2 linked regions of the Homo sapiens genome follow. The protein of the gene in region 1 interacts with the protein of each later gene in a pairwise test. Each region holds a gene or a part of one and is shown in the gene's direction. Other genes may lie near its edges.

The links. The genes of interacting proteins can lie anywhere in the genome.
Region 2: the proteins of RAB10 (region 1) and ENOPH1 interact in a two-hybrid assay, tested with the Homo sapiens proteins (one large-scale study listed by BioGRID and IntAct).

The regions. Positions count from the first base shown.
Region 1 is NC_000002.12:26,037,084-26,040,583, forward strand, and holds part of RAB10 (ras-related protein Rab-10), read left to right. Parts: intron 1-3,500. UniProt on the Homo sapiens protein: The small GTPases Rab are key regulators of intracellular membrane trafficking, from the formation of transport vesicles to their fusion with membranes.
Region 2 is NC_000004.12:82,454,590-82,458,089, forward strand, and holds part of ENOPH1 (enolase-phosphatase E1), read left to right. Parts: intron 1-132; coding exon 133-265; intron 266-2,325; coding exon 2,326-2,449; intron 2,450-3,500. UniProt on the Homo sapiens protein: Bifunctional enzyme that catalyzes the enolization of 2,3-diketo-5-methylthiopentyl-1-phosphate (DK-MTP-1-P) into the intermediate 2-hydroxy-3-keto-5-methylthiopentenyl-1-phosphate (HK-MTPenyl-1-P), which is then dephosphorylated to form the acireductone 1,2-dihydroxy-3-keto-5-methylthiopentene (DHK-MTPene).

The DNA.
Region 1 (3,500 bases):
AACTTTAACCTATCCTTAGGAACAGTGTGGAGTAGGAAGCAAAACATTAACTCTGTCTACTCCAATCTTTTTGTAAAGGGTGCATGCCCCCAACTAAAACTCAATCCTGTAAGATAATGGTATAATCTTTTTGTAGCCCTTTTACTTGGGAAGATGTGTGATGATTTTGGATCAAGTCTGCTGGGTTGGAATCTTGTTTCCACAGGTTACTAGCTGTGCAACTTTGGCAGATTACTTAACCTCTGTCGGCTTCAGGCTCTTTAAGAGTGTTAAGGCTGGGCACGGTGGCTCACTCCTGTAATCCCAGCTCTTTGGGAGGCCGAGGCAGGCGGATCACCTGAGGTCGGAAGTTCGAGACCAGCCTGATCAACATGGAGAAACCCTGTCTCTACTAAAAATACAAAAATTATCTGGGCGTGGTGGCGCATGCTTGTAATCCCAGTTACTCAGGAGGCTGAGGCAGGAGAATCGCTTGAACCCGGGAGACAGAGGTTGTGGTGAGCCGAGATCGTGCCATTGCACTCCAGCCTGGGCAACAAGAGTGAAACTCTGTCTCAAAAAAAAAAAAAAGTGTCAATCATAATATCTACCACATAGGGTAGTTGTGAGGATTTTAGGGGTTAGTGAGAGTAAAGCACTTCACATGGTGCCAGGACCAGGCACTTTGTAGGAGCACAGTGCATATTAGCTATATATAGAATATGTGACTCTTCTGCTGTGGAGGTGTGGCAGAACATGTTATTTTATGGATTGAACATCCTGCACACCGTGGTACCCAAGTATTTGTTGGTGCTCCACTAAACAATTTCTTTTTTTTTTTGAGACGGAGTTTCGTTCTTTTTGCCCAGGCTGGAGTGCAATGGTGTGATCTCGGCTCACTGCAACCTCCGCCTCCCAGGCTTAGGTGATTCTTCTGCCTCAGCCTCCCAAGTAGCTGGGATTACAGGCATATGCCACCACACCTGGCTAATTTTGTATTTTTAATAGAGACGGGGTTTCACCATGTTGGCCAGGCTGGTCTCGAACTTCTGACCTCAGGTGATCTGCCCGCCTCAGCGTCTCAAAGTGCTGGGATTACAGGCGGAAGCCACCACACTGCCCTCCTTTGTTTGTTTGTTTTTTTTTTTTTTGAGATGGATTTTCGCTTTTGTTGCTCAGGCTGGAGTGTAGTGGCACAATCTCTGTTCACTGCAACCTCTGCCTCCCAGGTTCAAGCGATTCTCCTGCCTCAGCCTCCTGAGTAGCTGGGATTACAGGTGCGCACCACCACGCCTGGCCAATTTAGTATTTTTAGTAGAGGTGGTGTTTCATCATGTTGGTCAGGCTGCTCTTGAACTCCTGACCTCAGGTGATCCACCTGCCTCAGCCTCCCAAACTGCTGGGATTACAGGCATGAGCCACTGCGCCCAGCCTAGACTCTGACATTTTCATACTTTCAGGTAAAAATGTTTTCACATATAAGATGTTGAATAGTGTAAGTTGAGAAAATAAATGATTCTGAGTACAGCTTGAACACATACATGTATTAGCTCTGTGCACAGGTTTAAAATACCATTGGGCGGGGCGCGATGGCTCACGCCTATAATCCCAGCGCTTTGGGAGGCTGAGGTGGGTGGATCACGAGGTCAGGAGATCGAGACCATCCTGCCAAACATGGTGAAACTTCGTCTCTACTAAAAATACAAAAAATTAGCTGTCCGTGGTGGTGGGCGCTTGTAGTCCCAGCTGCTCGGGAGGCTGAGGCAGGGGAATGGCATGAACCCAGAAGGTGGCGGAGCTTGCAGTGAGCCGAGGTCGCACTACTGCACTTCAGCCTGGGCAACAGAGCGAGACTCTGTCTCAAAAAAAAAAAAAAAAAAATCTACCATTGCGTTTAACCAGTGCCGTTCAAAAGAAATAATGTGAGCCACATATATTACTTTTAATAGCCACTTTTTTTTTTTTTTTTTTTTAAGATATAGAGTCTTGTTCTGTTGCCTAGACTGGAGTGCAGTGGTGCAGTCTTGGCTCACTGCAACCTCCGCCTCCTAGGTTCAAGCAATTCTACTGCCTCAGCCTCCCAGGTACCTGGGATTATAGGCGTGTGCCACCATGCCCAACTAATTTTTGAATTTTTTAGTAGAGACAGGGTTTTACCATGTTGGCCAGGCTGGTCTTGAACTCCTGACGTCAGGTGATCCGCCCACCTTGGCCTCCCAAAATCCTGGGATTACAGGCATGAGCCACTGTACCTGGCCAAATAGTCACATTTTAAAAAGTAAAAAAATTTTTTTTCTTTTTGAGATGGAGTATCACTGTGTTGCCCAGGCTGGAGTGTAGTGGCGCGATCTGGGCTCACTGCAACCTCCACTTCCCAGATTCAAGCAATTCTCCCTGCCTCAGCCTCCCTAGTAGCTGGGATTACAGGTACCCACTACCACGCCCAGCTAATTTTTTTGTATTTTTAGTAGAGATGCGGTTTTGCCATGTTGGCCAGGCTGGTCAAGAACTCCTGACCTCAGGTGATCCACCCACCTCGGCCTCCCAAAGTTCTGGGATTACAGACGTGAGCCACCACACTTGGCCTAAAAAGTAAATTTTAATAATATATTTTAACTCATATCTAGAATGTTACTTTATTGTGTGATCAAGATTTAAAAATTGTTGAGGGCAGGCTCAGTGGCTCACACCTGTAATCCCAGCACTTTGGCAGGCCTAGGTGGGAGGATTGCTTGGGCCCAAGAGTTCAAGACCAGCCTGGGCAACATAGTGAGACCCTGTCTGTATGAAAAAAAAATTAAAATTGTTGAGATATTTCACATTCTTTTTCTCTGGTTTGTAAGCTATGCTTACAACTCATCTCAGATTAGGCGTATTTCTACATGGATGTATATTATGTAATGAAAAAATAAATTTTAAAGAGGCATATTTCAAGTGATTAATAGCTACATGTGGCTTGTAGCTACCATACTGGATGGTATGTGTCTAAACAATGTAAAGTAGCCAGTTGGTCAACGTGCAGATGACTAGAAATACTTTGAATGTAGACTACTTTCAGGAATGTGTTAAATGTTATTAAGTGATGAGGGTTTCTTGTTGTTGTTTAAAAGATTAAATCTCACTCTGTCACCCAACTTGGAGTGCAGTGGTGCAATCATAGCTCACTGTAGCCTCGAACTCCTGGGCTTAAGCAATCCTCCTTCCTCGGCCTCTCACGTAGCTGGGACTACAGGCGAGCACCATCGCGTCTGGCTGTGTTGTTTTTAAAATCTAGAGCATTCTCTATAAATGATTTATAGAGAATCTATAACATCCTGAGGACTGGGCGTGGTGGCTCAAACCTGTAATCCCAGCACTTTGGGAGGCTGAGTTGGGAAGTTCACTTGAAGTCAGGAGTTTGAGACCAGTCTGGGCAACATAGACCCCATCTCTGCAAAAACAAAAAATTAGCAGGACATGGTGGCATGTTCCTGTAGTTCTAGCTACAGGGGAGGCTGAGGTGGGAGGATCACTTGAGTCCA
Region 2 (3,500 bases), on another chromosome or scaffold:
GTAGTCTCAGGGAGCTGCTTCTCAGGTTACCATGTGGGCACAAAGAGAGAAACATATGGCATCTGTTTTGACAGGTTTTTATCTGGCTAGATGAGGTGTTCCTGTATTTTAACTTAGTGGTCTTCCCTCTAGGTTCTTTGCAGATGTAGTTCCAGCAGTCAGGAAGTGGAGAGAGGCCGGAATGAAGGTGTACATCTATTCCTCAGGGAGTGTGGAGGCACAGAAACTGTTATTCGGGCATTCTACGGAGGGAGATATTCTTGAGGTAGGTTACCTAGTTTACTTTGTTGTTTTGACGCTATCAAAGCATAAAATAATGAATCTTAATGGAAAACTAATTGGAACTAATAGAATGCTTTTTTTTTTTTGGTTGTTTAAAATTAGGTAAGAAGAAAATAATCACTTTTAATTATATTGTATTTACAGTTTCTTCTATATAAGGTTGTTATATAAAGTTTATTCTGTGTCTTGAAAAATAAAATCAGTTAGGATGCAAAATAGGATTGTGCAGTCCTGAGAAATATATAAAGACTTTTTGAATACAGCAGAGAACAAGGTGCACTCATTTGTTTCTGGCTCTTTGAAGAAATATAGATTTCATTTAAGAAGAACCAGCATTATTATAGGAGAACCAGGCACATTTTTAAATGTAATAAGGTCGTCACCTGTTGCATTTCATGTACATGAGAAAATTCTTGCTAGCCCCTCTGTGTCATCATCCCTGCACCCCCTGGAGGATGGGGTGATCAGTGAAAGAAGTGACTACATTTAGGGTTTTAAAAAGAAGTGCTGATTAGCTGAATATAGACCAAACTTAACAATAGGTAACTTGGAATATAGACTTAACTTAAAATAGGTTACTTACAATAGGTAACTTGACCAGATACTTTTTAAAAATAAATATTTACCGGCCGGGCGCAGTGGCTCACGCCTGTAATTCCAGCACTTTTGGAGGCCAAGGTGGGCGGATCACGAGGTCAGGAGATCGAGACCATCCTGGCTAACATGGTGAAACCCCGTCTCTACTAAAAATACAAAAAAAAAAAATTAGCCGGACGTGGTGGCGGGCACCTGTAGTCCCAGCTACTCGGGAGGCTGAGGCAGGAGAATGGCTTGAACCCAGGAGGCGGAGCTTACAGTGAGCTGAGATCGTGCCACTGCACTCCAGCCTGGGCGATAGAGTGAGATTCCATCTCAAAAAAAAAAAAATTTACTTATTTTAACTTACAATAGGTAACTTGAATATAGACCGAACTTATAATAGGTTACTTACAATAGGTAACTTGGCCAGACAAGTTTTTAAAATAAATATGTATTGAGCACCTACCATGTGCAAAGAACACTTTGGCTTTGGAGGTTGTAATATTCTAATTTTAGTATTTTCCTACTTTCTGTCTTATTTTTAAATCAAATATTAATAATGAAACCCTTTAATCATTGGTGACTGTTCTCTTAATACAGATACAACTTCTTTTCTGCTCTCTCTGACAATCATGACAGGACAAAAGTACCTACTGAGTTCACTAATAAGAATTTTACTCTCTAGTTACCAAGTGAGGCAAACTGCAAGAAAAAGAAAATAAGCAAAATCAGTTTTAACTTTAAAAAAAAAAAACTTAAAATTACTTTTTTTTTTTTTTTTACCTTCCCATTGGCCAAACCCAGTTTGAGTGCTTACTATGCTTGTTTTTAGTTTGTGAAAAGTTCTGAAAACATTCAAAAGATCACATCTTAGTAACTGACCCTAAATATGGACTTATTTTAATTACTGTTGGTCAAATTAGCAAGTTACAGATTTGACTCCAATTGTTTCCAAGAGGGCAGAGACATAGACGAGCCCTTGGGTAGAATTTCAAAACGTTTTAACTAGAAAATGAGAATTTCTTGTAAGTAAAATAATAGCTTATTCATGAGGCAGGTTAGAGAAATTTTTTCATCGTAAGATTAAAGGACAGTGTTCAGAATCTTTCATCAGGAGTAAAATTCAATCCAGTGAGTAGTTTGAGTGCAAATCATCTTTAAGGGTAGGATGTAGGGCATGTTTATTTTAAACTATTTCAGATGTAAAATGAACGGTAGTGAAAACCAGGTAGATTATGAAATGATCTTATGTATGTTGAGCTGGTAGTTTTCTTCTTCCAAATGTCTGTTGCTATAAAATCTTTATTTTTACTTTGTATAGCCTCCATAAAGTTCCCTATTAAGTAGATTTTCAGAAAATACTGAACGAATGAAGTAATTGTGATTGTCATGTATTTCAGAGAAAGGCATGAGGGGCATGCAAGTGTATTTGTATTGCCAGTCTTTCCCCTTCTCTTTGTTCAGCTTGTTGATGGTCACTTTGATACCAAGATTGGACACAAAGTAGAGAGTGAAAGTTACCGAAAGATTGCAGACAGCATTGGGTGCTCAACCAACAACATTTTGTTTCTGACAGATGTTACTCGAGGTGAGTAATAGACTTCTTATATTATATACTCCAGGATATGAACTGAGCCTGGCACTACAAATACATTGCCTCTTTAAAGAAACTTTATATGGGGATCCTTGAAAAATAAAACAGTTTTACGGTTTTATATAAAGAAACAGTGTCTGGTTCAAGTTCATGTTTGAATTAAAAAAAAAAAACACAGCAGTGAAGGCAGGCTTGGTGGCTCATGCCTGTAATCCCAGCACTTCTGTGGGCTCAGGCAGGAGGATTGCTTGAACCCAGGAGTTCGACACTAGCCTGGGCAACAATGTAAGACCTCTGTCTCTACAGAAAAATTCAGAAAGTTAGTTGGGTATGATGGCTCACTCCTGTGGTCCCAGCTGCATGGGAGGCTGAGGCAGGGGCATCAGGTGAGCCCAGGAGGTCGAGGCCGCAGTGAGCCGTGTTTGTGCCACTGCACTCCAGCCTGGGTGACAGAGCAAGACTGTCTCAAAAAAGAATGAACCAACTCTGGGGGTTGCATGTGGGGAAGTGGCATTGAAAAGACTAACTCTTCTCGTTTAACTCCTTGTCCGTGATTTCCCAGCCATCGCTATGTACACACACACACACACTATGACACAGGAAATTAACAGGAAGACTTAGAGGAGTTGTCATGGGAAGGAGCATGCAAGCGGGGTTGTGAGTATAAGGGGTAGGTAGTTGAGCCAGCCAGTTCTGGGATTAAATGCACAGTTCCATTTGTGATCCCCGGACCTTTGCTCTATCTCAATATTAAGAATTATAACCCCTGTCCTTAGACCACTTATAGTTTCTTCATATTCTTGTGTTTAGCCACTTAATTTTTGTATTTGGGATCACATAGTACATCTATAATTTCAGATCTTTCTCTTCTCATTTAAGCCATTTCCTCAGTTGCAATTGTAGAAATTATTCCTAATTTTGGAGAATAGAAATAATCCCTAAATTGGCTTCAAAATGAAATTAGCTCCCTTTGATTCTCTGTAAGGAGGTTTTATTCCTGCCCTTCATCTTCTGCTGGCCCCATACACACTTAGGCCAGAACTTG